4 linked regions of the Homo sapiens genome follow. The protein of the gene in region 2 interacts with the protein of the main gene of each other region in a pairwise test. Each region holds a gene or a part of one and is shown on either strand. Other genes may lie near its edges.

What was found.
Region 1: the proteins of LDLRAP1 (region 2) and PSD4 interact in binary tests that used the Homo sapiens proteins (3 or more experiments, as listed by UniProt).
Region 3: the proteins of LDLRAP1 (region 2) and MAPK8IP3 interact in binary tests that used the Homo sapiens proteins (3 or more experiments, as listed by UniProt).
Region 4: the proteins of LDLRAP1 (region 2) and HOXD8 interact in binary tests that used the Homo sapiens proteins (3 or more experiments, as listed by UniProt).

The regions. Positions count from the first base shown.
Region 1 is NC_000002.12:113,176,956-113,183,976, reverse strand, and holds part of PSD4 (PH and SEC7 domain-containing protein 4), read right to left. Parts: intron 1,632-7,021; 5' UTR 1,521-1,631; coding exon 465-1,520; intron 1-464. UniProt on the Homo sapiens protein: Guanine nucleotide exchange factor for ARF6 and ARL14/ARF7. Through ARL14 activation, controls the movement of MHC class II-containing vesicles along the actin cytoskeleton in dendritic cells. Involved in membrane recycling.
Region 2 is NC_000001.11:25,553,600-25,560,620, forward strand, and holds part of LDLRAP1 (low density lipoprotein receptor adapter protein 1), read left to right. Parts: intron 1-322; coding exon 323-465; intron 466-1,260; coding exon 1,261-1,373; intron 1,374-3,553; coding exon 3,554-3,668; intron 3,669-7,021. UniProt on the Homo sapiens protein: Adapter protein (clathrin-associated sorting protein (CLASP)) required for efficient endocytosis of the LDL receptor (LDLR) in polarized cells such as hepatocytes and lymphocytes, but not in non-polarized cells (fibroblasts).
Region 3 is NC_000016.10:1,701,701-1,709,205, reverse strand, and holds the start of MAPK8IP3 (C-Jun-amino-terminal kinase-interacting protein 3), read right to left. Parts: upstream 3,012-7,505; 5' UTR 2,867-3,011; coding exon 2,549-2,866; intron 1-2,548.
Region 4 is NC_000002.12:176,125,141-176,132,704, reverse strand, and holds HOXD8 (homeobox protein Hox-D8), read right to left. Parts: upstream 3,001-7,564; 5' UTR 2,339-3,000; coding exon 1,762-2,338; intron 1,389-1,761; coding exon 1,093-1,388; 3' UTR 10-1,092; downstream 1-9. UniProt on the Homo sapiens protein: Sequence-specific transcription factor which is part of a developmental regulatory system that provides cells with specific positional identities on the anterior-posterior axis.

The sequences.
Region 1 (7,021 bases), on a different chromosome or scaffold from region 2:
ATCTGTCAAGAAGAGAGAGGACTGGACTTTTGAAATAGGCATCTCTCTGTTAGGGGCAAAGGTCACCCTTGCAGGCTGAGCGCTGCCCTGTTACAGTTGGGAATGTCTTGGAGATGGGAGGGGAAGAATCTGAGAATGGCCTGGAACATGCTGCAATTGGAGGAGCTGTTTGTTCTCCAAACGTATCTAGGCATGGCCCCTTGGAGCTGGTGAGATGGAGACATTTATGGACTTAATTATCAGCTGACATCAGCTGACATCATGGCATTGATAAAATGTCCTATCATTCTGAAGACAACACTGGTCCTGATTTTCTGCTCTATTACCCTGCTATATACTGATGCAGGTTATCCCCAAAGCTCTTAGCGTCAGAAAAGAATGTTCTGGGCCTGGTGACCCCCGAGGAAGACCCTCCCTTCTGTGTTCCCAGCACAGCCCCGGTTGGTTCCCAAGACTGGGCTTACCTCACTCTCCCCGTGACCAGGAGGTGCTGCAGGAGCCCCCTCAGCGGCAGCCACTGAGGCCCAGCAGATGGAGTGTGGTTTATAGATGGGCACAGGGAATGGAGGGGTACAATGCCCACTGATAGCAGCGCCGTCCCCCAAATCTGGCTCACTTTCCAGCTCCCACAGCACTGTGTCTTCTGGGAGGGGAGGCTCCAGAGTCGCTGGGCTCTCAGGTCCAGTCCTCACACCTGCATGGGAGTCTGAAGCCCCCCAGGAAAAGCACTCTCCAGAAGCACTGTTCTCTGAGCAAGGACTCGCCAGGAAGAGGGGGTTGCTGAAGAACATGCTCTCCTCCTCAGCTCCCCACTGTGGGGAAGAGTCTGGGGTTCCCTCTCTCAGCCATGCCTGGCCCTCTCCCTCAGGCTCACTGCTGTCTTCCCCTGAGTCTTCATTCTCAGGTGGGCTGGAGTGCAGGCCCGTGTCCCCGGGGAGGTCCACAGGGGGCGTGGGGAGACAGCATTTCAGCCCAGCCTTGAGCCCTTCCGTCTTCTCCAGCTCCTCCTCCAGGTCTAGGACACACATCTGGGCCTGCAGGATGCCTGCCCAGAACACTACCTGTGTGGACGTGCTCCGGTTCTGCTTTGGGCTCCCCGGTAGATGGCTGTTCACTGGTGACCCTGGTGATGCTGTGTTCTGCCTGTGCTCCCTCTGGGCAGAGGGGCTCCCCAGGTGTGTGAGCTCCACACCGGAGCCCCAGGGAGGAGCATCTTGTCTGGTAGATTCAGGAGGGTCAGTGGCCCGGGTTTGCTCCTGGCAAGGCTCCAGCCCGTCCTGATGGACCCAGCTCCCCAGGTGTGTGAGCTCCACACCGGAGCCCCAGGGAGGAACATTTTGTCTGGTAGGTTCAGGAGGGTCAGTGGCCCAGGTTTGCTCCTCGAAAGGCTCCGGTGGATCCTCATGGCTGCACGTTTCCCTTGGGCACTCTCCTGGGTGGGGCTCCAGGCTGTCTCCCAAGTACAGGTTGAGAATTTCCATGGGCTGGGGGTGGTCAGGGAGTCTGTAGTCACCCATCATCCACTGAGCAAAAGCTGCCCAGGAGTGCCCCGGAGCATCTGCTTTCACGGTCTCACTGTGTGGACTAGGGGGAGCACTGGCCGCTGGAGAAACTGGGAATCCATATCTACCCTGGAAATGCCCAAAGCAAGTGCAGGTTAGGGAAGGGCTGTCAGCCTCTGGAGGCACGTGTGTAGTGTGTTAGATGTGTTTGGAGTGTCTTCCCCATCTATGCCTGCTGCTCCTTAGCACTGCCCTCCACAGCCCTGCTGGGAGTAAGGAGTGTACCACATATTCCATCTGATCCCACAATCTCTAAACTTGCACCAGGGCAGCACCTGCCCCAAAGACACCCATCTGTTGGCTGAAGGTAGCCCATGTGGCTTAGCTGAAAAGAACAAACTGGCCAAATCAGATCCTTCTCTTGGGCATTTGGATTGGAGAGTGTGGAGACCGAGGTGGTTGGCAGCAGGAACTGAAGGCGGAAATGCCTCTAGGTATCAAGGAAGCAGCTGCAAGCCACAAAGGACATGTAAACCAAAGCATGTGGGAGCCAAACAGACACAGACGAGGTGAGGAGAATGCAACAGACTCATGGAAGAAGCAGGCACCCACGACATGAAGGCCACAGCCTGCCTTACTTCCACTTTCCAAGGCTCCTATCCTTGGGGCCTTACCCTGTTCACCAGGCTGGCTCACAGCCTGCTTCTTTGTCCTTGTAAGCTGTTGGCAGCTTGGAATTTGGCCCAGGTGGAAGCAGCAAGGGGCTCTCTGCTTAACTCAGCCCAAGCCCTCATGAAGGGAGGATGCTTCAGCCCTGCTGCCTACCACCCAGCAGACTGCCTGCTGCATGGGGAGGAGATCTCTGCCTTCTAGGGAGGAAGAGGCTGGGATGTGGCAGCCATGTCTGCCTGGAACTGCCTCACATCTGCCCAGAGCTGCTGTGTGCACAGCCTGCACTAACACTCTGGGTGGGCCCTTATCAGATGAGCCCAGGAACCTCGCAGGGTGTTTTCTAGAAGCATGCATTTCCATCCCCTGCATGCAGCCCACCGCTTACACGGCTCTCAGAGCAGCCCTGCTTCCTCAGAATAGCTGGCTTGTTTTGATCCAAAGCACACTGTGAAGCTTGTAACTTGTTTGTCTCATGGTGCTGGCTCTCCACAAAGTGGAAGTGCAGGGTCAAGTACACAGGTCCTTATGGCATGTCGTAAGCACTCCCCTGGCAGCTGTCTTTTTTTTTTTTTTTTGAGACAGAGTCTCGCTCTGTCACCCGGGTTGGAGTGTAGCGGCACAGTCTTGGCTCACTGCAACCTCTGCCTCCTGGGTTCAAGCGATTCTCCTGCCTCAGCCTCCCGAGTAGCTAGAATTATAGGCGTCTACCACCATGCTCTGCTAATTTTTTTTTTTTTTTGTATTTCTAGTAGAGATGGGGTTTCACCATGTTAGCCAGGCTAGTCTCGAACTCCTGACCTCAAGTGATCTGCCCACCTTGGCCTCCCAAAGTGGTGGGATTATAGGTGTGAGCCGCTGCACCCAGCAGCTGTCTTTTCTTATTTTCCCTTTGCCTCATTTTCTTCACTCACAGATTTCTATCTTGAAGGCTTACGTGCGTGCTTGTGAGCTATATTAGAATATTTTGGGGAGCAAGACTATTAACAAACACACACATGCTCCCAGTTTATAACCACGTGTGACTTCCAGATACCCAAGAACAACAGCCCCTTCCACATGCAGTTAACCATGCCTGTCCCCACCCACCACTCCCCCAACCTCGCACCTGAAAGATGAGCAGTCCCCTGCGTGTCGCTGTTTAACAGATGAGGAAGCCTTAGCCTGAGTCTGGCTTAATGACTCACAGCTGGTGACAGGGGCCGGACTCCGACCCCAGACCATCCACCTTCCGGTCTGCAGCTCTCTCTGCCCTTTCCCTGCTCCAGTATGAAGAGAGTGAGCCCAGGTGGCCTCGTCCAGGGCTCCAGACCTCACACTGAGATCCTCCCACAGGCAGGCTGTAGGACAGGAGCTTGACTGGCATGCAGGGCCCTAACCAGCACACATAACAAACCCATGGGGGTCAGCTCCTCCCTGCCCAGCACTAGAGAACATAAGCTGAATCAATAGCCACATGGACTGCAGCTCAAACCCTCGTCCTGCCACATACAACTGAGTGGATAAGCCTGGAAAGTTCCTTAGCATCTGGGAGCCCCACTGCAGTGGGGAGCTAGGGTTAACGGAGGTGATTCGCGCGGCCTTCAGCCCAGGCTTGGCCCACTGTTAGACACTCAGTAAATGGTAACCCTCAGCGCTCTCTCACGAAGGTCAGGGGGTCCAGCTGTTATTCAAGGTCACCTAGAAAACATTGCTTTGCCCCACGCCTTTTTTCTGGAGGGCACCTGAGAGAAGGAAGGAGGGCCAGTATGCATTTCAGTTTCTTATTCACCTTGAAAGTATCCTTTTTCTAAAAGTGCCTCCAAAAGAAATCTCTTTCTGGGTTTTTACCCCTCCCTCTGACCCAACCCTTGCATTCCTGTTTTAGAATAACAAGAATCTAGACTTGCTGGATGACACCCTCAGGATTCTGATGTTCCAGCCCACCCGGAATGGTCCCTGACCGGCCTTCAGGGCCCTTCCACCTGTTAGTTAAGGCAGCCTCCCCAACAGGCTGACTTTCCGAGAGGAGAGGCCCTTTCTTATGTTTAATCTTGTACTTGATGCTCTGAATCAAATGGACCAGATTTGGTCTCATCAGAGATGTTTGAACCAGAGTGGCTCCATCTTGAATAGGGGCTGGGTAAAATAAGGCTGAGACCTACTGGGCTGCATTCCCGGGAAGCTAGGCATTCTAAGTCACAGGATGAGATAAGAGGTCGGCTCAAGATACGGGTATCCTTAATCCAGCAGCCCAAGCGCTGCTCTGCCTATGGAGTAACCATTCTTTTATTCTTTTACTTTGCTAATAAACTTGCCCTCATTTTATGGATTCACCTTGAATTCTTTCTTGCACGAGATCCAAGAACCCTCTCTTGGGGTCTGGATTGGAATCCCTTTCCATTAACAGTCTTGCCTTTCATTCTTCTCCTATGGATCCAGCCTTCACTCATCATTCTAGGTTCTGCCTCTCCACCTCCCACCACTACCTCCAGGTAACAGGCAGAGGATTTGTATGGTTTACTCCTTAAGTCCATACCACTCTCTGCTCCCCATGCAGCTGCCCATTGTCACCCTCAGTGCTCTCTGGGCAAGAGGCCTGAGACGGTTCTACTTCTAAGGCAGAAGGGATGAGGAGCCTCAGGATCTATTGTCTATACTAGGGAAAACACCCTGGACCCCAAATCTCCCTCCCCAAACCTGCCTGGTGGAGAGCAACCGAGTGTGAGCAAGGAGGTGACTCACCCCACCACATCCCACTGCGCCTCCTCAAGACACCAGCCCATGGGGTATAATAAATGACTAGGAAGACATGTTTATTTAGAGATAGAGGGGAAAGCTGGGGAGAAGCACCTGGTTTACAGGTACCAGAACATAGGACATCCCTAGCTCTACTCAACTGCCTCCCTTCCCAGACCCCAAAGCCACCCTCCACGTCTCTGTAAAGTCCTGGTCTTTGGGCCCAAATAGTTCTCCTGCCATGCAAAATCCCTGATCCCTTCTCCTGTTCTCATTCACCCAACTCCACACATTGTACCTGAATGAGTGCCAGCCTCATGGCCCTATGAGCCCCAGAGCATTTTGCCAGGATAACGCCAACCCACCTTCTCTCACCATCAGTCAACTCACTTGGCAAGAAACGTTCCCGTGCCAATATGGGAATGGGAGTGGGAATGCGGGGCTGGGCCTGCTAGAAAGGACATCCTGAATTTTTCATAAGATGAGAGGAAACCCCACTTGTCTCTCTTTGCACATATGTACTTGCAAATAGATATGTATATGTACATAAAGCAGCCCTCTAGGTACACGCTAATGCTGATACTAGATACAAGTGAGGATTGGACTTGCCTTCCCAGAAAAAAACCAGCGTTCCTTGCTGGGTTTTTTCAGAGGAAAAAAAATAAATACCAGAGGCTGCAGCAGCTTTCCGAGCAAAGAGAAGAGAGCAGATCTCTGGGGCCTGCAGCACCTGAGGAGCCTGGGAGGGGTGGGGGTGAGGAACTGGTCAGTGGAGGGGAGCCCAAGGCAATGGAGACAGGAAGGGTGGAGACAGATCAGGTATTCAGTGGGGACAAGGCATGTAGTTTGACTGGCTGCGACATTTTTTTTTAGACGGTATCTTGCTCTGTCACCCAGGCTAGAGTGCAGTGGCATGATCTTAGCTCACTGCAACTTCTGACTCCCAGGTTCAAGCGATTCTCCTGTCTCAGCCTCCCAAGTAGCTGGGACTACAGGCACCCGCCATCATGCCTTGCTAAGTTTTGTATTTTTAGTAGAGATGGGGTTTCACCATATTGATCAGGCTGGTCTCAAACTCCTGACCTCAGGTGATCCACCTACCTTGGCCTCCCAAAGCGCTGGGATTATAGGCATGAGCCACAGCACCTGGCCGGCTATGACTTTTTAAACCAATTAAACTCAATGTGACTATACTCCACCCCTCGCTTTTACTTTCTGAGCGTTTATCCCGGTGTGTAGTTGCCAGTGTGTTTACCCGCGTGGTTCTAGTTTGCCTAGAAGGTAAGCACCAAGATGGCAGGTTCTTTATGTTTCCTGTTCGCCACTGTGTCTCAGTATGAAAATATTGAATGGCATAGTCACATTATGTAACTGATTTGTCAACCACTCCGACCCACAAGGTCTGGGGGCATACTTTAGTTCAACTGGATTTGAAATTTAAAGATCAGCATTGACTTGAGGGGTTTAGTTCAAGTGGATTAGAAACTTAAAGGTTAGCGTTGACGTAAGAGGTTCAGGCCCCCCTGTGACTTGAGCTGGTGTGCGAACCCAGGTTACAGCTCTCTTAAGCATCATTCTCTCCTCCTGCCCCACTGATCAATTCTCTTGGACATTCCTGAATTCACTTGAGTCACTCAAACTCCTGTACAGCGCCTCCTTGACTGAGAGTCGGCGTTGTAGAACATTTGTGAAAATAAGAGAGGGGATGGCTAGATGAATGGACAGACAAATGGAGAGACACACTGATGGGATGGATCCTCAGAACTCTCCCTCCACAACAACCAGGCCAGAAGACGGGGAAGACCGAGGCTTGGAGAAGAGAATTAGCATCATTATAATATGAAGGCTTCCCCACGGGGGCCAGTCTGCCCATGACCAATCACCTCATCCTCCCCTCTCCAGGAAGTCCAGTGCTCCAAGGGCAGTGCTCCCCCAGAGGTAGGTTCCTACCAGGTCAGCAGCCAAAATGTCCCTGTGGGTCTTGGCTCCCAGGCAGCAACCCGAACAGAAAGGAGGACCCATTCAATTGTCTTGTTTGTGCTCTCCATTTGTGCAGGGGGCACTGTGTAACTGTGTGTTTAAAAGATGTCTTCCTTCTGTTTTTTAATTGCTCTTGCCTGAATGGAAAGGTA
Region 2 (7,021 bases):
CCAGCACTTTGGGAGGCTGAGGCGGGCAGATCACTTGGGGTCAGGAGTTCGAGACCAGCTACTCGGGAGGCAGAGGCAGGAGAATCGCTTGAACCTGGGGTGCAGAGGTTGCAGTAAGCTGAGCTCGCACCACTGCACTCCAGCCTGAGTGACAGAGTGAAACTCAGTCTCAAAAAAAAAAAAAAAAAAAGAGTGGCAGTAGTGGTGGGGGAGACCCCCATCCCCCTTGCTGGGGTTTCCTAGGAAAGAAGGCTGGTGAGAGCTGTTGCTGGTGGTGGGCCCTGAGCCGCAGGGTCTGAGGGCCTACCCTGTGCTACCCCAGAGCTGCCTGAGAACTGGACAGACACGCGGGAGACGCTGCTGGAGGGGATGCTGTTCAGCCTCAAGTACCTGGGCATGACGCTAGTGGAGCAGCCCAAGGGTGAGGAGCTGTCGGCCGCCGCCATCAAGAGGATCGTGGCTACAGTGAGCACCCCAGTCAGGAAGGGTGGGGGAACCAGGGACCAAGGACCAGCTTCTTCCCAGGGTGCCCTCGTCCCAGCTTGTTACTCCAGTTGGGTGTGTCTGAGCCTGGCCCTGCCCTTCATTCTCCTTCCATCCAGCTTTTGGGCCTTGGCAGAGGGGAACCATTGGACTTGCAAGGTCACGGTTAGTGGCTTCCCTCCAGCCATTATGGCCTCTTCCAGCCTCCCCACCCCCAGCTCAGGCTCCCTACCAATGCATTGGTGACTTATCAGCACCAGGAAGGGTGGGGAGTTTGCTTTCCCTTGACTACCTGCCCAATGGCCTGAGAGACAGCATAGCCCATCAGAGAGCAGATTGCCCCCTCCCTAACTTTGAGCAAGGGTGGGCCTTTTAAATCCACTTCCCTTGGTGGCCTCAGACCCCTCAGCTCAATGGATGGAGCAGAGTACTCAGGAGTCATCCTGCTGGGTTGTGCTAGCTCATTCAGTGCCGAGTCTGCAGGCCCTTCTAGCTGTGTGTCCTTGGGTAAGTCCCTTAGCCTCTCTGAGTCCATCTCTGGGGAGAGGGAGGATGACTCCAGGTCCACGGTGCCTGACAGATAGCTGGTGCTCAGCAGATGCTGCTCCTGTTTCTATTGCAAGAAGGTGCTGGCTGAGTGGTCTTGCCCACACTGCTGCCAGTCACCTGAGCTGAGATGGGCCCCGTGCCTGGGGCTTAGGAACAGTGAAGTGTAAGCCATGAGGGTGGGTCTCAAGTGAGGCTGGCAGACTCCTCTGACTCCTGTCTGCTCCCAAGGCTAAGGCCAGTGGGAAGAAGCTGCAGAAGGTGACTCTGAAGGTGTCGCCACGGGGAATTATCCTGACAGACAACCTCACCAACCAGCTCATTGAGAACGTGTCCATATACAGGTACGCTCAGCATGGGGTTGGCCCATCCACTCTGCCACTTGGGGCAGTGGGTGGAGTATCCCATCTGAATCCAGGCTCTACCACTTCCTACCTGGGTGACATTGGAGCCTCAGTTTCCTCATCTGTAAAATGGGGGTGGGAACAGATCCTGCTGCACAGCGCTGTTAGGAAACGTGGAGTGCACGGCACCTGGCTCATGATGAGCATTTGGTTAAGTGGCAGCTGCTGCTGTCATCATCACCAGTTGCAGAAGACAGCTGAGCCCACCCGTGCCCTTCCCCCCTACTCCCCACCAGCATGCCGCTGAGTCGGGCTTGGAGCAGAGAACTGCAGAGTCACTGCCTTTTCCTTCTGCTGTGAATGCAGCAGCTCAGCTCTGGGTATCTGGCCAGACATTCCAGGGAGGCCTCAGCCAAGGTCTGAAGTCAGAGTATAGATGGTCTCTCTAGTGGGTCCTCTGGTCAGCCCTTAGAGCCTCAGACTATCCCCACCTCTCTCGGCTGGTCAGTTGTAGTTTTTCAGAACTGGAAGGGACAGCTCAGGTCCATTTTACAGATGGAGAAGCTGAGGCCCAGAGAGGGAATTGCCTAAGGCTGCACAGTGAGGTAGTAGCTAAACTGGAACTAGGATATCCGGGCCAGAGCCCTGTCCAGCAGGCTCCCGTCTGCCTGGCATCCCTCCACCCTCTTGCTTTGTCTCTAAGCAGATGGCTCAGCCCGTTGGTGCACAGGCCAGTAGTAGGGTCAGTAGATGTGTGTTGTGGGGGTCTGGCTGATGTCTTCCTCTCACCGGCCTGATCATACCTGCCTTCCTTTAGTCAACAGTTTCAGATACCTATTCTGCCAACGTCTGTGCCAGATGAGGACTCCAATCCTGCTCATTGCCCTCAAGGAGCTTCCACTCTAGTTGGGTATAGTCGGGAGGAAACAGGAGATAGAGCATAGTGTTCCAAAAAGGCAAGGAGGAGATCTGCCTGGGGAAATCCCGGAAGGCCTCCCAGGGGAGGCGGCACCTTGCTGGGGCTTGAAGAATAATAGGATCTAGTTTGTTGTTACCAAGGACCCAGTAACATTTAGAGCAGGAAGCTGGACCCCCTGGGATGGAGAAGAGGTAGGCAGGGACCTAACACCTTCACGCTCTGCCCACCGGGGTGTTGATGCCTGTGATTGAAGCTGGGGCCACATGGTTGAGGGGTGAGTCTATGGCGCTCCTGTCCCACCTCTGGGTTGAGGGGTGAGTCTGTGGTGCTCCTGCCCCACCTCTGGGCTACCGGCCCCTCCCCGATTGAGACTCTGAGGCTGACTGGAGGCAACGAGGAGGGACCAGACAAGTGAGGGAGGGTGGGAGGCCGAGGGCTCGGGTGGCCCCTAGGTTACAGGTGCGACTGGGGGCAGAGAGGGTGCTCCATGCAGAGGGAGTTGCTGTGTGTCTCCTCCCGGGCCCACTGGGGCTCCTTGTTGGGTCCTCGTCACACACGCACCCCACCCCTACTCCCAGCTCTTCACCCCTGGCCACAGCTCCAGAACTTGCAAGTGTCCCAGTCACCCTGAGAGAGATGGACCTGAATCTCACCAGACCTCTGGGCAGGGGCATGGATCGGAGGGCAGGTGGGGTGGGGGAGGCCAGGTGAAGGGCATTGGTGAGCAGGGGAGTGTCCTGCTTTCTGCTTCCCCTTCTGGCCAGTTGGCACACAGCCTTAAGAGGCAGCATGGCAGTCATGGCCTCTGGAGTCCTACAAGTGAGTTCAGGTCTGGGCTCAGGTCTTTAGCCTCAGTTTACTTCATCTGAAAAACATGGATAGTGATAGAACCCGTCTCAGAGGGTAGCTTTGAGAATCACATGAGGTGAGGTCTAGAAAGCTCTTGGCACATTGCCTGGTATGTGGTAAGGGTTCAGCTATTACTGTTTTGGGGTGTGGCTCAGTGTGGGATGGGAGGGAGAGGGGGAAGTGCCCTGCTTCCAGTCTTTACCCCATTCCTTCCTTCCTGCCTGGCCTGGGCCCCTCCTGCACAGATGGCCTAGGTACCCAGCCTGGAGGCCAAGGCTGGATTCCCAGAGTCTGCCCTGGTGGAGTGGGAATAGCAGGTTCTCTGCAACTCAGGGGAGCTGCCCTGCAGGGCTTCCCACATGTGCTCAGGCCCCTGTGCCAGGTCTGGTGATGCTTCCTCCTTGCCTTTCAGGATCTCCTATTGCACAGCAGACAAGATGCACGACAAGGTGTTTGCATACATCGCCCAGAGCCAGCACAACCAGAGCCTCGAGTGCCACGCCTTCCTCTGCACCAAGCGGAAGATGGTCAGCGGGGAGGGCTGGGGCGGGGACAGGGTCCAGTGGCCTTGGCAGCCTTGCTCTGGGTGGGGGGCTGTCTGGTGTGGGAGGCAGGACCCAAAGGTGACCATTACTTAAGAAGAGGGTGAAATCTCTGGGAACCCCAAGTGGGTGCCGAGAGCTAAGGGGTACAGTGGTGGGGCTGCAGGCAGGCAGGTGAACCGCCGGTCAGCTTTGTGTGGGCAGTAGCTGGCCCATGTCCCCAGTGTGTGTCTGGGCCTGTTCTCTCTGTAACGGGATTTGCTGGGTTGAGATTGTTTTGGATCTCCTGTCTTTAATATGGTCTAGGGATGCAGGGCCTTCTGGTGATTGGTCCTCGGAAATGGGAGATCAGGGGGGCCTAGGGTGGAAGGCAAAGGCGAGAGCCGTCAGAGAACCAGGCTTGCTGTGACTGGAGTGTGGAGGGCAATGGCTGTTTCTTGGTGCCTCCTGTGAGTTCATTCCAGCTGTGACCAGAGTGTGGAGGACAGTGACCGTCTCTCGGTGCCTCCTGTGTGTGCATTCTAGTGCTAGGCTTCCAGGTCTTCACTCGTTTAATTCTCACGGCTCTGCAAGGTGGCAACTGTTACTCTCTCCATTTTTTTTTCTTCTTTTTTTTAAAGTTTTAATGAGGAAACAGACTCCCAGAGGCCAGCTATCTTGCTGTCAGGGTTAGAGTGGGGGTTTAAACCCACGTTTCTTCCCCTCCCTGCGTGACTGGGGAGTTCAGAGCTCCTTGTCTCATTTCCAGGACACCCCCTGACCACATCTTAGCTGGGATGAGTGGGAACCTTGGTGGTCACGGGGGATTTGTCCTGAATTTGGGGGCAAGAAGTGGAGTGGGTCAACCTTTGGCATTGCAGCTTTTGTTTCTGAGACCCCCAGGATCTGAGCATTCTCCCTATAAGGTGCTTCCTGACATCCATTGATGTAGCATTGACACCTGTTAACCTCTGTTGACAGCTCTGAGCCCCAGTCCCCATGCCCTATAGCCCTTGGAACCTAGGAGACAAGATCCCCTTCCCTCCCCTGTCATCAAAGGACATGTCAGGTACATCACAGTCTTTGTGGTCCCCAGGCTTCCTGCTGCCCATCAGGACACACTTTAGATATTGTGTAAGTTGTAACAAATGATCGCAAATTTAGTGGCTTAAAACACAAATGTATTCTCTTATGGAGAAGAAAAATGTATTCTGTGACAGAAGTAGATCAGGAGTCTAAACTAGGTCGGCAGGATTGTGTTTTTTTCTGGAGGTTCTGGGGGGAATCCATTTCCTTACCTTTTCTACCTCCCAGAGACTGATCACCTGCATTTCCAGGTTTGTGGGCCTGTCCTCATCTTCCGAGCCAGCAATGTAGCATCTTCTGGTCTCCTGATTTCATCGTCACATTGCTGCTTTTAGCTCTGACTCTCCTACCCCGCTCAGCACTCCTTCTGATGACATTTGGACACTCTGAGTAATCTGGGATAATCTCCATCGCCACATCCTTAACTCACTTCTGTAAAGCCCGTTTGCTGTGTAAGGCAGCATTCACGGGTCTCAGGGATTAGGATGTGGACATCTTGGGGGCGGACACACGATTCAGCCCACCACAGGTGTCATGGAAGAGGCACTGTAGGAGGAGACAGTCTAGCGGTCTCCTGGCTGATTTGCTGTGTTACCTTGGAGAAGATCCTGCCTTTCTCTGGGCTGCTTGCCTATCAGCAGAATGAGAAGGTTGCCTCAGTGACCTCCAGGGTTGTTCTGAAAGGCCCCGGGTTCTTTTGAACACCTTGTTTCTTTCCTGCAGACTCAGTGTCACTGGCCACTTGCCTCGTGAGGTCCCAGGGCTCCAAGTTGCTGTGGCATCTCCTGTGAGTTCCCACAGATGTGACTCGTGGCTTTGTCTTTTAGGAGGCCACACAGACTTAAAAATACAGCTCCTTATGTCCCCATTGTTCATCTCTTCCTGCCCGCTGACCAGGGCAGGCCCTGGGCAGGGACAGCTGGCCCTGGGTGGGAGGGGCCTTCGACGGTGCAGAGGCTTCCTCTGGGATGAGGGGTCTGGGAGTAAGAGAGAGGTGCAGGCCCAGCTCTTACAAGGGAGACCTGGCCTGTGGTCAGAGAACTTCACACAGACTTGAGTGAAATCAGCCTACCCTCAGGCCATGAGGTCAGTTACGAGGAAAACAGAGCCAGGCCGCTGCTCAGCCACTGACTGCAGAGCCCTGACCAGGCAGCAGAAGGGCCCCTGCCAGACACCCAAACTCTTCATCTTTCTTAGTGTATTCTTCTCAGGTTGGGTTGATGGCTGGAGTGGTTTATCCATCTCCCTACCCTTTGCTACCTGGCCTCCCTGCTTCAGGGGCCCTGCGGAGCCCTCTCCAAGACAGCGCAGCCCAGCATGGTGTAAATACATCACCTGCTACCTCAAGGTCTTAGCCCAACCCAGGCTGACAGTGTGTTGGTGGCCTAGACATGTTGGAAATCCTAGATTCTTGGGCTAAGTGGAAGTGTTCTTGGGGGAGGCAGGAGATGGAATAGCTGCGTCAGCCTCCGCACCTGCTGGCAGCTCCGCCACAGAGGTTTGGCACCGTCTGTCCTGGCCTGAGCCATGGAGAAAACATCCAAGGCGGTAGAGAACAGCCCAGCATCAGTACCTGGAACCCAGGGGGGCTTAGTTCTGGGGTGGTAGTAAATCTCACTAACTTCCCTGAAGTTAGAGTCAGTGAGACTTCCCTGAGACAGACACCTTGAATGGGGCTTTGAAGGCTGAGGAGCCAGGAGGAGTTTGCCAGGCCGAGAGAAGGGGGTGGGGTGGTGGGTGGGGAGTGCACACCAGCATGGGATTAACACACGTGCAAACGCAGAGGGGCGAAGTGAAATGGTTCCCCTGGGGTGGGTGGTGAGGCAGCTTCCGTTTGCAGTGGGCCTTGAATCAGGATGTTGAGGGCCTTGAATCAGGATGTTGAGGGCCTTGAATCGGGATGTTGACAAAACGTCAGTCATTGTGGCTGGGGGCCTCCACATCCCTACTCTTCCTGGCTGGGCTGCCGGAATGAGTTCATGACCCATTGAGGTTGGGGGAGAAAGGCTCCTTTCTACATCACCCACCAGTCCGTTCAACTCTGGGGCAGCACAGCCACCCCAGGTCTCCCCTCCCTGGTGCTGCTGGGCACAGCCAGCATAGGGTTCCTCCAGGGAATCCCTTCCATCTGCCCAACCGGGAGGCCTCTGGGCTCCAAAGTGAAGGTGTCATGCAGGTGCTGGGCCTGGGCTGATGGTAAGCAAAGTGCTACCCCCATTTCCACCCAGGCAGCACGGGGCCAGGCTGCTCCCTCCCCCATGACCATTGGCATC
Region 3 (7,505 bases), on a different chromosome or scaffold from region 2:
GTAATGACCGGCAAGAAGATGGGAACAGGGATGTCTGCTCTGCTCAGGTTTTTATAAAACCCTGCGGATTCTGTCTGCTCAGAAGCTGCAGTGGCTCAGGTTACCCATCTCTGACTAAGCCTTCTTGAGCAGAGTGGCTGGGGACGGAGCTTCTGCTGACAGCTCACCCAGGAGCTCCTCTGCAACAAGACACGCCTGCAGCGTGTGACGTCCCGCTCCCCTCTTATCAGACACACGTCTATGTGATCACAAGTCCCTGCCTAGAAAAGACGCCGACCCACAGGGCACAATGGTCTACAAAGTTGGAAATGAAGGTCTGCTTGATTCAGTAGAGGAGTAGGCATGCCAAATGTTGACAGCATCGAGCCCTCTTCCTTAGTTGTAAAGCCCTGAGGTCTTTCCAAGGGCGCCCCGTTAGCGTTTAATCATAGCCTCCATGCTGGCCAAGCATTGGCTGGCTTCGGGGCTCGGCTCCCGAAGCTCTCGGTGCAGCTTCTCTAAAGCGCTGGGGCAATGGTGGGTCTCAGACTAAAGGTGATAGCTTTGCAAACCACACGCACACCCGCCAGCTTGGTTCAGCAGGAGCCCTGGGGGAGGGCAGATGCACTCACAGCAGCTTGCATGTGAACCGCACAGAGCTGGGCAGCGCCTATCCTGTGCACAGCTCATTTTTAAGCGGCAAGGTTATAATTCCTAGCCTTAACGTTGTCCATCTTGATTTTCTCCTTTCAGTTCCTTCTCGTCCACTATACTGACCACACAGGTACAAGGTGAAAAAAAGAAACCCACCTGAAATCCAGGTCAGGCCACTGAGTGTGGGAGAGCAGTGGAGGGCGGTGCCCAGCACAGGGGGCAGCCACAGCTCCACAGCTGAGCGAGGGCAGCCCTGGCACTCCAGGCTTCTGGGGAGCAGCCCTCCGGTGCCTGCAGCTGCCTGACATGGAAGCAAGTGCCCAGGCCGGTGTCGGGTTCACTCTGCATCCTGGCTGGGCACTTCTGGGGTGGGTGACCTTGGTTCAGCCCCTCCACTTCTCAGGACAAGTTTCCTTCCCAGTAAAATGCCTATAGTCACCCTGAGCTCCAAAATCCATGAACCTTTGCGTTCCCTTAGGTTGAGAGCTTTAACTCAGCTTTGCTGGAACCGGGGCATTCCAATCAATGCATAACCACCTCGCGACAGACACGAAGCCCAAACGCAATAGAAACCACAGGAAAGGAGGAATGATACAACATACTGTTATGATTTTTATAAACACGCTTTAAACCAAACTAGGCCATAAATCACCTTGGTTTCAGAAAAAGCCAAAATACTGACACAATCTTTTATTTTCCTATTAAAGTCAAGAATGTGTTAAGCCGAATTAATTGAAAAGGAATTGAAGCTCATTTCCTAAGACACTTCTATTCATAAGTCAAACAGCATTACCTAACTCCTAGAATGAGAGAATTTCTGGGCTTGGAGATCGCCTAGTGCAATTCACTCCTTTGATGGAAAATCGAACCCCAGGCAGGCGACAGGCCAAGGTCACAGAGGCAAAGCAGGGATGGGAACCAGCCTCCCTGAACCTGTTTCTGACAAAGGGCGAGGTTCTGGGCCCACACACAGGCAGGCCGAGCTCAGTATCTGACGGTGAATGAATGAAGCTAAGTGGTGCTCCCCACAGGGCCCGGCTCTTGTAACTGCTTCACAGACAAGCGATTTCCAGGTTATGGAGACATCCTAGCACAGAATTAAACGCTTCAAACTCAGACTGTTAACTCCTCAGAAGCCAGAGTGGAGTTTCTCAGCCCTGGCTACATCAGCTAACAATCTCGCCAAGCAAGGAACCAAGGGGGCAAAGACATCACCTCCAGAAACTCGAGTGTTCCTTCTGCTGACAGAGGAGCAGCCCGCCTGCGGCCTTGTTCTGTGTTTACATCAACCACCCAATTCACCCGTGTCACAGACCTTCAAAATACGGGATTAGGGACAAGGGAAAGGTCTCCAACATCATCCACAGACGGCTGCAGCCCCCTAAGAACACCAAAAGATTCCTTTTCTAGATGGGTTTAGAATGGCAGCCAACAGAGGTAGCACTTGGGGTCGGGAAACGGTTTTGACTGAACACACGCACGAAAGCAAAGGCAATTGTCATGCAGAGGTGGGTGGGGAGGGGAGAGTGAGGCCTGGCTTTGAAGCTGAGCTCCCCGGGGATGACGCCAGGCACATCGGGTTTGGGGCTGAAGATTCAGGGCTGGGGGCACGGAGGAGGGGGCCAGGGCCCAGGCCTGGGCGGAAAAGGGGGTCCCCGGGAGTCGGGGTGGGGTCCCGGGGCAGGCGGGGGAGTGCTCTAGGGAGGTGTCTCACGGCGGGCAGAGGGGGTGGGGAAGTCCCGGGGCGGGGGATATGGGGTCCAGGCGGGTCTCGGGGCGGGGTCTGGGGGTCCAGGGGTCCCGCGGTCCGGGGTGCCGGAGCGGGGTCTGGGGTCGGGACGGGTGTTGGGTCCGGGGCCCGGGGCTGGCTGGGGGTCCGGGACGGGGATGCGGGCGGGTCCCGCGGCCCACGCACCTCCTCCGCCTGCCTGCGCAGCGCCTTCTCACGCTCGTACTGGGTGAGCAGCTGCTCGTTGTCCTCGCGCAGCAGCTCCAGCTCCACCTCGTGCTCCTGGTTCTCGCTGAGCACCGAGTCTAGGTTCTCCAGCACGTTCACCACCAGCGGCATGAGCTCCTTGACCACCTCCTCGTCGTAGCAGTGGATGAGGCGCTCGAACTCGCGGTAGATGGAGCCCGCCAGGCCCGACACCCGCTCCGACATCACCGAGCCGGAGCAGTAGTCGTCCTGGTACACCACCACGCCGCCGCCCTCGTCCATCTGGATCTCCATCATCGCGGCCACCGCCGCCGCCAGCGCGGCTCGCTATCCGGCCGGCGCGCCCGGCCCTCCCCAGCTGCCTCAGGTTCCGCAGGCCGCAGCCCGTCGCCTCCCGCAGCTGCTGTCGCCTCAGGGCTCCGCCGCCGCCGCTGCCGAGGCTGCGCCCGTCACTCACTCACCGGAAGTCCCGCCCTCCAGCCGGAGGGGGCGGTGCCCGCGCGTCCCGCCGCAGCCGCGCCGCCAGGGGGCGCAGGGGCCGTGACGTCAGAGGAAGCCGGGCTTCGGGCCGGAAGCGCGGGTGAGCCGGGCAGAGGGAGCTCCCGGCCAGGCCGGTGGGATCCGCGGGGCGGCAGTGGTCGCTTCCCCCAGCGCGCTGTAGCTTGATCATGTCCCCGCAACCGTGGGCTTCCGGTGACCTCGATCCCGTCTCCAGGCTCTGCACACTTCGGCGGACTTAGGTGAAGGCTCAGCGCCTGCGCCTCAATCCCGGCCGCCCTGATGAGCCTCCGTTCCCTACAGCACCGCGCCCCGCTCAGTGCCTCCCCTCTCCTGATGCCTTCCCCGCTCAGCTGGCTCCTCCCGGGATTCTGTGAATGCACCCTCAACGCCCATCTCATCCTGAAACCCAGCAGCGTGGCCTCCTTCCTTTCGCCCACTTCTCCCTACTGCACTGACTGCTTCAGATTTTCTTTTTTTTTTTTTTTTTTGAGATGGAGTCTTGCTCTGTCGCCCAGGCTGGAGTGCGGTGGCGCGATCCTGGCTCACTGCAAGCTCCGCCTTCTGGGTTCAAGTGATTCTTCTCCCTCAGCCTCCGGAGTAGCTGGGATTACAGACCAGCTAATTTTGTATTTTTAGTAGAGACGGGGTTTCGCCATGTTGGCCAGGCTGGTCTCAAATTTCTGATCTCAAGTGATCCGCCCGCCTCGACCTCCCAGAGTGCTGGGATGACAGGCGTGAGCCACCGCGCCAGTCCAGATTTTCGGTTACTTTTCAGCTACGTGCAATCTGTTTAACCCATCCACTGGGTTATTAATTGCACCGATTTTTTTTTTTTTGAGACGGTGTTTCGCTCTTGTCGCCCAGGCTGGAGTGTGATGGCGCGATCTCGGCTCACTGCAACCTTCGCCTCCTGGGTCCAAGCGATTCTCCTGCCTCAGCCTCCTGAGTAGCTGGGACTACAGACACGCGCTATTAACGCCCGGCTCATTTTTTTGTATTTTTAGTAGAGACGGGGTTTCACCATGTTGGCCAGGCTGGTCTTGAACTGCTGACCTCAAGTGATCCACCCGCCTCCCTCGGCGTCCCAAAGTGCTGGGATTACAGGCGTGAGCCACTGCACCCTGCCAATGATTCTGTTTTTGTCCTATTTGATTTCTTATATTCTAGCAGTTTTAATAGGCTCTTATACTTCCAACCACATATTTATCTTTAAGCGTTGGGTGTGCCTCATAACTACAGTATCTGCAGCCCTTGCAGGTCTGATTCTGCATGTCATCCTGGTTGACTCTTGGCCCAGGGTCCCCTTTCCCCCATTCTGAGCCAGTGTCCCCAGGACTTTTGTCTCTGGAAGTACTTGAGGCCTGAACTTAAAATGTGTTGCTCCGTAAGATTTGCACTTTATTTTGCTGGGCAGGGGACACCATGAACCCAAGACTTTGAAACTCAATTTGGGAGCCACACATGTATTGTGAATCCTGATGAAACCACATCAGTGACTATTTAATGCTAATAGAAATGGCCACTTACCGTCTTTCACCTACTGCAATGCTCATCAGTTCAGATCCTCTCATCCTAATCTGATTGCACCGAAACAGTAACTCCCGTAGCTGACACCCTACTGATTTTTTTTGTTGTTCAGTTTTTAGAGGCAGGGTCTCACCCTGTTGCTCAGGCTGGAGGCACTGGCATGATCAGGGCTCACTTGAACTCTTAGGCTCAAGTGATCCCACCTCAGCCTCCTAAGTAGTTGGGTCTACAGGTGTAAGCCACCACTGCTTGGCCAATTTTAAAAACATTTTTGTAGAGACAGAGGTCTCACTGTTACTCTGGCTGGTCTTGAACTCCTGGCCTCAAGCGATCCTCCCCCTTGGCCTCCCAAAGTGCTTAGATGACAGGTGTGAGCCACCATGCCAGGCTCTATTGTGTTTTTCACATTTTCCACTTGCAACATAATTTGCCGTATACATGTTCAACCATCCCACTAAGAGGTTTCATTCAGCCTCAGATTCCAATTTCCTGGGATCCCAAGTGACTTAATTTTGCCAAATCTCCATTTCTTTTCTTTTCTTTTTTTTTTTTTCCTGAGATGGAGTCTCAGTCTGTGGCCCAGGCTGGAGTGCAGTGGCACCATCTCAGCTCACTGTTACTTCCGCCCCCCGTGTTCAAGCCATTCTCCTGCCTCAGCCTCCCGAGTAGCTGGGACTACAGGCATGTGCTACCACGCCTGGCTAATTTTTGTAATTTTTAGTAGAGATGGGGGTTTCACCATACTGGTCAGGCCGGTCTCAAACTCCTGACCTCAGGTGATCCACCCACCTCAGCCTCCCAGTGTTGGGATTACAGGCATGAGCCACCGTGCCTGGCCCCAAATCTCTGTTTCTAAGCCTGCAAAACAGCCTAAAATATCCAGCCTATTAGGAATGTCAGCTAATCCATGAAAGGAGCATGGCGCCATCTCCAGCAAATAACGTGCGATAAAGGTTACGGAGAGTTGTGAGGTTCCATAAAGTGAAAATGATAAGGCTGGGCAAACAGATGTAATCTATAATTCTTCCTGGTGAACAAGTTAGAGCAAGCTTGCATTTTGGGGGATGTTTAAAGCTTCTGCTTTATACCTTTGAGAAACTTGAGCCCTTTGAATTCCTGAGGTAGCACACTACAGTAGGAACAATGCTACCACAGGGAGAGGCCAACAGACTTGGCCATCAACTCAATTGATTAATTATCACTACCATGATTGCACAGATTTGTTACTTTAAGTTGGTTAAAATGAAATTTTAACAAGGTGCTGGATAATTCTTGACACTTATGGAATCATACAACTGGTCTTCTCCTGAAAGTTGGTGCTGAATTAGAACTGCTTACAGCTGGGCATAGTGGCTTACACCAGTAATCCCAGCACTTTGGGAGGCCAAGGAGGGAGGATCGCTTGAATCCAGAAGCTTGAGACCAGCCCGGGCAACATAGTGAAACCCAGACTCTACCAAAAAAAAAAAAAAATCAGCCAGGCGTGGTGGTGCATGCCTGCAGTCCCAGCTACTTGGGAGGCTGAGGTGGGAGGATCACTTGAGCCTGGGAGGTTGAGGCTGCAGTGAGCAGATTGTGCCACTGCACTCCAGCCTGGGTGACAGAATGGCTCTGTCTAAAAAAAAAGAAGAACGAACTTCTAGTAACAGAGGAGTTGACTTCCTTTCAGATTCAGAAATACTATTTGGGATGCAACTTTTTCTCACTAAAATACCTTAAAATGTAAGATGGGCATTAAAATATAAAATGTAAGTTTCTAAAATTCAACTTTAATTTCTAAGTATCTGCCCTGATGCCTGCTAAGAAGCCACACAGTTCCCTGTGATGTTCCTCTCATCTTCATGAGCTGAGTTTGAGAGAGCATCTTTAGATAGCACTTTGTAGCCACACATTACACAGGAGTATTTCAGTGATGATCTTCAAGATGGTCAGGATTATGAGTGCAGAAGAAATTAAGCAGCCAGCACGGGAGGAGGCATCTACACACTCACAGGGTGTGACCTACCAGGTACACCACAAAGATCATATGGCAAAGTTACCTGACATCAAAAGAGCCTGTGTATTCCTGGACAAGGCACGGGGCTCGAGGTGGCAACCCTTCGGGGTCTGTTATTCACACCCTCACCCTGTACCAGGTGGCACCCGCGTCCTTCTAGACTTGGCCACTGCCAGGCCTCTGGAGACGGAGGAGCTGTGACTCCCAGAGGTTCCCATGCTTGCTGGTGGCCTTGGCAGCTGCTAGAAATAGGAAACTTAGCGTGTCATTTCCTAGCCTGGTTCTTGGAACTCGCTCTATACCCTGTGGATGAACAAGTGAAGACGGTGTTTCAGTTAATGCATGTTGGTTTTCTTTCTCAAGCGTTGACTTTCATCTCATCTGGCCCCGATCTAGCAGGCAGAATGGTGTGGAGCCTCCTAGAGAGGAACTCTCAGGCTCACAGTCTGAGAAGTTTACCCTGAATCCACATAATGCCTGTAAGGATATTAAGTATGTTAGAAAACATATGAAAATAGCTAATACATCAGAAGAAAGACATCCAATCTGTTTTTTATTTTATTTTTTTACACAGGGTCTTGCTCTGTGGTCCAGGCTGAAGTGCAGTGGCATGATCATCACTCACTACAGCCACAACCTCCTGGTCTCAAGTGATCCTCCTGCCTCACTCAGCCTCCCGAGTAGCTGGGACTACAGGCATGCACCACCACATCCGGCTAATTTAGAGAAGTTTTTTTTTGTATAGACAGGGTCGTAGTATGTTGTCTAGGCTGGTCTCAAACTCCTGAGCTCAAGTGATCCTCCCACCCTGGCCTCCCAAAGACCCAAAGACTACAGACCTGAGCCACCATGCCCACCTGTTTTCTTGACAGGACTTGCATATGACAAGCTCTCTGCTTCTCCTCACCTATG
Region 4 (7,564 bases), on a different chromosome or scaffold from region 2:
GACACTAGCTCCAGAAAGAGATTCATTTATTTACTAAGGAGCTAGCGACATTCCGGAGTTGTTTACACTCAGGTTTTTCTGCGTTTCCTCTCAGGGCTTGTTTCAAATAGGTGAGGCTATCGCTTTCCTGAAGAACAGCGGAGGACGTACCAACCGACGTCTGAGATGCACACAGCAAGCTGGTTTAAAACCAGCGGCGAACAGAACAAAGGCAATACAAATAAATATGACACCTACTGAAAATAACGGAACACAGCGGCAGCCACCGCATAAAGAACTAGCGATTTCAGGCGATTACAAGGGCGGTTCAAAACGAAAGCAAGTTAAAAAATGAGACGCATTTTACAAGGCGATTTGCCAGAGTTGCCAGATTATTTAATTTGTATGGACTATAGAAAAATAATTGTCAACTTGGACATTGTCTTTAAATTCTTGTCACTGGCCCAATCTTTTTCTTAAGTTTAAGGAAGCTGCAGAGCTGGACTACAAGTTACATTCTTCAGCTAATACGTGCTTTTCTAATATTTTCCCCGAGATATTACATTTAGAAAATACGCAAAGAAACCTTTTAGGAGTAAACAAAACGCACCCGAACTATTCATTATAAAGGAAAGAATAAAAAATCCATAAATAATACATTGTAATCAAATAATATAAAGTATTCTGCAGACATAATTTTTTTTAATTAATAAACTCCTTTTAATTTACTCACCACAAATATTAAAATGTTCAAGTGCACTTGTTTAATTAATAAAGCATTTTATATGCAATTATTAAGTGCTAATCATTAGGAAGTTTACGTTGTTGAGGCAAATCACTAGCTCAGACATTAAAAACCATTATAAAAATATAGCTACAAGGTCAGTATCAAATTACCCTTCCATAGGACAGCTCAAGGACAGCTTCTATGTGATACTAGAAACTTTTTTAAACACCCAAATCCCTCTCAAAGCACAGAAAACCTCAAGAGCAGTGACATGAAGGTAGCTTGAAACACAGGTAAGGTCCTTTCCAACAAAGAAAATAGGTGGTGTCCACAGCATATGGTGATTATTAGTTTTAATAGTCTGTGGTAAATTTTAAAGGTAGAAGTTAATTTGTCAGGCCTTCGGCTCTGTCTTCCTCCAGCTCTTGGGCTTCCTTTTTCGTTTCCCCGTCCTTCACCTCCTGCCGGGAAACGGGAAATTTGTCCTTGTTGTTTTCCTTTTTCCATTTCATTCTCCTGTTCTGGAACCAGATTTTTACCTGTCTCTCGGTGAGGGCTAGGGCGTGGGAAACCTCGATTCTTCTTTTCCTGGTCAGATAGGGGTTAAAAAGAAATTCCTTTTCCAACTCTAGAGTTTGGAAGCGACTGTAGGTTTGTCTTCCTCTTCGTCTACCAGGAGCTGCTGATTAAAACAAAAAAAAAGGGGGGGGGAATAAAAGTTTTAAAAATGTTATGGTACCTCTGCATGTTGCTGGAGGTTTGTGGAACGGGGGTCTACGGGGTGAAATATACACAGAGCTCTTTAGCTCCGATATATATATATAGGGTGTGCAGGCAAGAGGAGCAGAGAGGTCTTCACAATTATTCTGTCCCCATCATCTTTACATGGTTCCTACTTTTTTAAAAAAAGTCTGTATTACTTTATGAATAAGAGCCACTGTGGCTACACAAGAAGGAAAAGGAGGGGGAGAGGGAACGGGAGTTTTAAAGCCAGAACGTGAGATGAAAGCAGATTTCTCCCCCTCTCCCTTCTTAAAAAAAAAATGCATCCCAACCTTGTGGTCTCATCCACGGAAACATTTGAGAAGGAGACGAGCTCTGATTTAAGTGGTCTGGGTCCTCGCCAATATTACCACTGGACGATTTACAGTCAGGATATTGTACCAGCTCGGCCTCTTGCTGGGTCGTAAAAATCGGCTGTCTCTGTAAGTTATCGTATCCGTAAAACTTCGCGGGCTCCCCGTGACAGGCAATCCCGCCGCAGGGGGGAGGTGGCGGCGGAGGCGGAGGATGCGGAGGAGGAGGGGGGGCGGCCTGGTAGGCAGCGGCCGGGCTGCCCCCGCCGGGGTGGAAGTACTCCTGGCCCCGGCCTTCCCTACCGCCGCACCCAGTCCCGGAGGGCGGCGGGGACGGGTGCGGGTGCGCGTGCGCCTGCGGGGGCGCGTGCGGGAAGCCGGCGGCGCTGTTGCCATAGAGCTGCAGGGCTGCTGCGGCGGCGGCGTGACGGCCGCCGACCTCGGGCGCGAAGTGACAGTCGTAGTAAGTGGGATTGATGGCCTCGCCCGCCGCCGCCGCCGCCGCAGCCGCCGCCTTGTACTTGGAGTACAGCGGGTTCACGAAGTACGAACTCATTGGGGCGTCAGCGGCGGCGGCCCCGGGCGGGCGGGCGGCGCTAAGCAGCCAGAGAGCGAGCCTCGACTCGGCCGCACTGCCGCGGGGGCCTGTGGGGCGGCTGCTCTCGCCGCCGGGACCGCCGGGCTACGTCGCTGCTGCCGCCCGCCCGCGCTCGCGCGTCGCTTCTGAGGCCAGGCAGCCGCGGGCGCTCAGCTACTGGGCGCTCATGCCCGGCTCTTGCGCCCGCCGCCTCGGCTTCGCGCCGCCTCCCTCGCGGGTCGCGGGGCCTCGCCCAGCCCCCGCGCGCCGCCGCCCTCCCGGCCTTTCCCGGCGCGCCCCGGCTCGGCCGCAATATAATCGCCGACGCCCCAGGCGACCTGCCCCGCTGCCTCCACTGTTTCCTCTCAGGCACCAGTGACTGAGCGCACCCGGACAAGAAAAAAGTGCGCTCGGCCCACGGGGACACTCTGGCCTCGGTTTACAAACCCCGGCTCTGGAGGGAAAAGAAAAAAAACACCCTCTGCCCGCCGCCACCTCTTACCGCGCCCCCCCCGCGCCCCCCTCCCGCCAATCTCGCCCCCGCCGCCGAGGCTGCCGACCCGGTGCGCACCGGCGAGGCATTTTCGCACCACAGCACTGCACGGAAAGTCAGCGTGACGGGGACGAGGAGCCCCGCGGAGGGATCCGCGCGCAGTTCAGTCGCTACGGCCGACGGACGGAGCGCCGCGCCCGGCCCGAGATGCCTCCGCCGGCCTTAAAGGGGGCCCATAAAGACGCACTGCCAAGGGCTCCGTGTGCCCCGGGGCCGCGGGAATGCGGATCGCAGCCGGCAGGGAGGGGCCGCGGCGGAGCCTTAGACTTGGGGGAGCCAAGGAGGCCACTCCCAGGAGGCTGCGGAGCAAATGACTGCCTCCCCGAGCCCCTGGCTGCAAAAGCAGAGGTTGCCCGTGGCTTTTGCAGCTCTGGACACGCGGGTGCAGCCCAGGGAACGTGGACAAGAGGTGTTGACGGACCGGACCGTGCATTTGAGTTGGGGCATATCGAAGTGGTTTAATTAAAAGCCGCGAGTGTGGCCCCAGATCCTGGCGTTATCAAAGCAAATCAAAGCCTTTCTTTTCCAGCCGAGCGGGCCCTGTGGAAATGAGATGTACATTTACCCTTGACGCACCGCAAGCCTGGCCGAGGCTCTCAGGTTAATTGATATTTAATGGAAATCATGCCCATGAATATAGTTTCCATCATTTCACCCTTGATAGACGTCAGCCCTGGGCGCAGGGGGAGGCTGAAGAATGCAGGAGGGGGCATTAGGCTTGCTGAGAGAGTAAATAGAAGAGCGGACAGAAACGTTCTGAGGCGGGAAAAAGGGCTCGCGCTGGGGAGGGTGACATTTCCTCGGGCAGGACGCGGCTCCCGGGTCTCAGCCCCGGCGCGCAGCGAACCAGGGCCGGCTGCGGTTCCCGGAGGAGTGCGGAGGGCAGACGACCGCAAGTTCCCCCCAGGAGCCTCCCAGCCGGCGTTCAGATCGCGCCGGTTCCAGGCAGCTGCAGGCGGCCCATCTTATGCTAACGATCCTACTTCCTCCGCCAAGCCTGTGAAATTACTGCCGAGAGAGCGCGCAGGCCTCAAAGTTACGAATTTTTCCCAAAGCAGAGAAAGAGAAGGCTCAGCCTAGTTTGTGAGCAGAGATGAAGAAAAGTTGCCCGAGTCATGTGGCCCAGTCGAGTGTGAATCGACAAAATATTCCCGATTTTAGCAGCTCTCTCCAAAGCTGTCTGGCTTTACCCTACCAACCGCCTCCCCACACACTTCCTTTCCCTCTCTGCTCCCGTTTCAATGTCCAATAAATGCAATGGTTCTCTGTTGTGTGTGTGTGTTTTCCCCTCTCCTGCTCGGCCTTTCTCGTGGGCTCTTTGGGTGACTGAGCCCCGTTTCCTTCGGGATAGGTACAATGTCGTGAGGGCGCCAGGCCCACAGCCTTGGAAATAGACCTCCAAGGCGCCCCTGCTCAAGCTAAACGCACCACGCCGGCTTTCCACACCAAATGCAAATTTCCGAAAACCCCAGACGGCCTCAGAGATGCTGCAGGCTGGCGAGCGATTTCAGCTACCCCTAGCTCCTTGTGGGTTGGCCCAGCCTGCGAGCGCGATCCTGACTTGTGTCCGGGTGGACTGAAATATCATTTTTACAAATGGAGAAAATGAGATCGAGATGGACAGACATAGCAAGGTGATAATGTCCGACTCAATTATTTCTACTGGGAATGACTGAAAGGTAAAGGAATCGTTAATGAATCTGGAGATGACAGAGGCATGCTTTATTTAATTTTTAAATTAGTAAGGAGTGCAGACTTGGGGTGGTGGAGAGCAAGGGTTTTTTTGTTGTTGTTGCTGTTTGTTTTTGTGGGGTTTTTTTTCTGCTGGTTATTGCCAAGTATAATGACTTTCTTTAAATCCGAAGGCGAACGAATTGATTCTGACAATTAAGGATTTGTCCTTCAATCTTGCAAATGCCCAATTAAAAGATTATTATTGTCAATAAAGCCTTGGAGCTACCTTTGTAATTGTGCCCCTTTTTTTCAGTTTGGCGTGTGTGTGTGTGTGTGTGTGTGTGTGTGTGTGTGTTTGAACCCTGGATAAATGAGTGGATTTTGGAATGGAATGGGGGGGGGGAAAATGAAAGAGCCTGGATCTCAACAATACCAGGCATCTTGTAGAACTGTGTGATTCCTCGGGGGAATAAAAGAAAAATGAACACTAGAAAATTCATTTATAGACATTCAGGCCAAATTTAGAAAACGTTACAACATTTCCTCTTGGGACAAAACAGTTTTTAACATTTATTTAAGCATTCCGTTTATAATATGAGTAGAAAAAGAGCGCGATTAACTTAGTAAGAAAAGATCTATGCTTTTTACAGCTTTCTGTTTTGATATAATACATTAATTTATCATGTTTTATAGTTTCAGCTGTGCCACAGTCCAAAGTTTCTGAAGCCATGATCGAGCCAAAATTTTATGCCCAGCAAACACAGAAATTAATAGTACACCTTGTTTATTTTTGGTTAAAATTATCCTAATTTCGGATTAAAAATAAGATTGTTAATATTTTTAATCAAAACCTTTCTCCGCCGCAATTCCAGCTTTACGAGATCAGAAAGTGGAGCAACAGCGCTCTCTAGTGGCCAAATGCCACCTCCAGTCCACTGAATTTAATTTTTATTCATCTCAAACCAATTCTAATCTCGTTCTTCAATTTGGGGCTTGGACTGCTGACACTAATAATGCTTCATTCCTGTGACTGTCAACAAGTCAAGAGCAGCAAGCAGGAGCTCCTGTATGCCTAGGATATTCTAATCAGTGCTCCCAACAGCTTCCAGTAGTGTCTTTTCCAAAAGCTTCCAGCCCTTCTTTTGCCAGACACCAAAAGTCCCCATGCTGTAACCGCCCAGCTGTGCCTTTTAAAACAATTATAGGACAGGCTAGATTTAACAAAACCTACAACTTTCTAAATATCAACTGCCAAGAGGCTTTTTATTTTCCAGAGGAACCAGACACTTTGGCAACCAAGAAATTACAGAAATCAAGTATTGTTATGTTTTTGTTTTTCTCTTACAGCTGTTACTTTTAGGATTAAATCATGAATATTTGCTACTTTAACACTGTAACTTTAATGCTTTGGGGCCCACTTAGGTGGCCGATTTTGGGGGGAATCGAAGCCAAATCAAAAGCTTTTTGCTGGATCTCTGAGTGGCTGTCTGGAAAGTCCCTTTGCGCTTCTGTTTGTTGGAATTTCTATGGACAATAAATGGGATTTTAAAAATATATATCAAAAGTCATTGAACTAAGCATTCCACTAGAATTTTTTTTAAAAGCAATGACTATTCAATTGGCTTAAGTGTTTCCTGTTAGGTTAATCTTTTTACTCATCTTCAAAACTGCTTTCCTCCAGTTTAGGTGTAACAATTGTATTTTTTTATAAGTGAATAGACATAAATTTCAACAACATTTTGCTTCAAAGTTTGGAGTGGAGGGCCAGAGATTCTTGTGAATAGGCATCTAACTTCATCTTTTCCCGCGAACCACACTTCTGGGAGACTCTCACCTGGGTAAATGACCTAAGATCACTAACCACCCTATCCCCAGATAACAGGCCAATTTTTTTGTTTGTTTGTTTCTAAAGAACCAGCTAAACCGTGGTCATAGTCAAAATATTGTAAAATGCCATCTCCTTAGGCTACTTCCATTACCTGGTTCATTTCAAAAATCAGAAATTCATTCACCTCTTCCTTCCTACCTCTTTCATGTTTACTTCCTAGGTGCTCACACCTCACCTGGGGGCTCCCATGCCCCTGCCTTCTTGGTCCAACGCAGTCTTGTTTATATTTTATTGTCTAGATTTTAAGACCCAGTTTTGTCTGCATTTTTCCTTTTCTCCCACAAACACAAACATCAAAATGAGATGGTTTCAAAGCAAAGCACTGGGCCTGTCGTAAACTCATTACCTCCAGACGTCTGGCCCGCTAGATGGCTTTATGACACCTCGGCTCTTCCTGTTTTCAAAGAGCCCTAGGTACCCAGCTGGCCACAGTGGCAGGGGTGCGCAGCACCTTCTGCCGGATCTGGGCCTTCCTTGGCTTTCCCTCCCAGCCCCCCTATGCTTTTTCTTCGCGTCCCCTCTTTCATTGGGATCCCCCAAGATCTCTGCCACCGCCCCCACCTTCCACCCAGCTCAGGCCACTTGGCAGTGCTGCCTCTTTGGCCTGCAAATGCTGTGCTCACCCAAACCCTCACTTACAATGACCTTCATTTTAGCCCCTGAATGCAGCCCTCAGAGGGCCAAGCTGGGGGCTAAACATACACAGAAGCTGGGTGGGGGGAAGGGGGCGGTGAAATGGAGGTGGCTGGGGAGGAGAGCCTTGACCATTTTGATCGCTAAGGTCACTTTGGGGCTTTGGTGGGGAGGAGCAGAAGCTCACAGCCTGACCAGCTGGGACCTCCCGGAGCCAGCTAGCCCCACCGAGCTGGGACAGTTGCTCCAGAGTGTAGAGTTGGCCTTTCCCTTGTTTGGAGAGGGGTTTGGCATCTGGGGCTTCAGGAGCCCAGGGAAGGTTAGGGTGCTGTGTACCCAAGCCCCAGCCTGAAAGTGCCTGGCTTCTGGGGCCTGCTGGCTCTTCTGGGCGCTTCTGCAAGGCTAACACTGGGCCCAAGCACAGAGTTCGTGGAGGACCTTGAACCAGGCTTGGGGA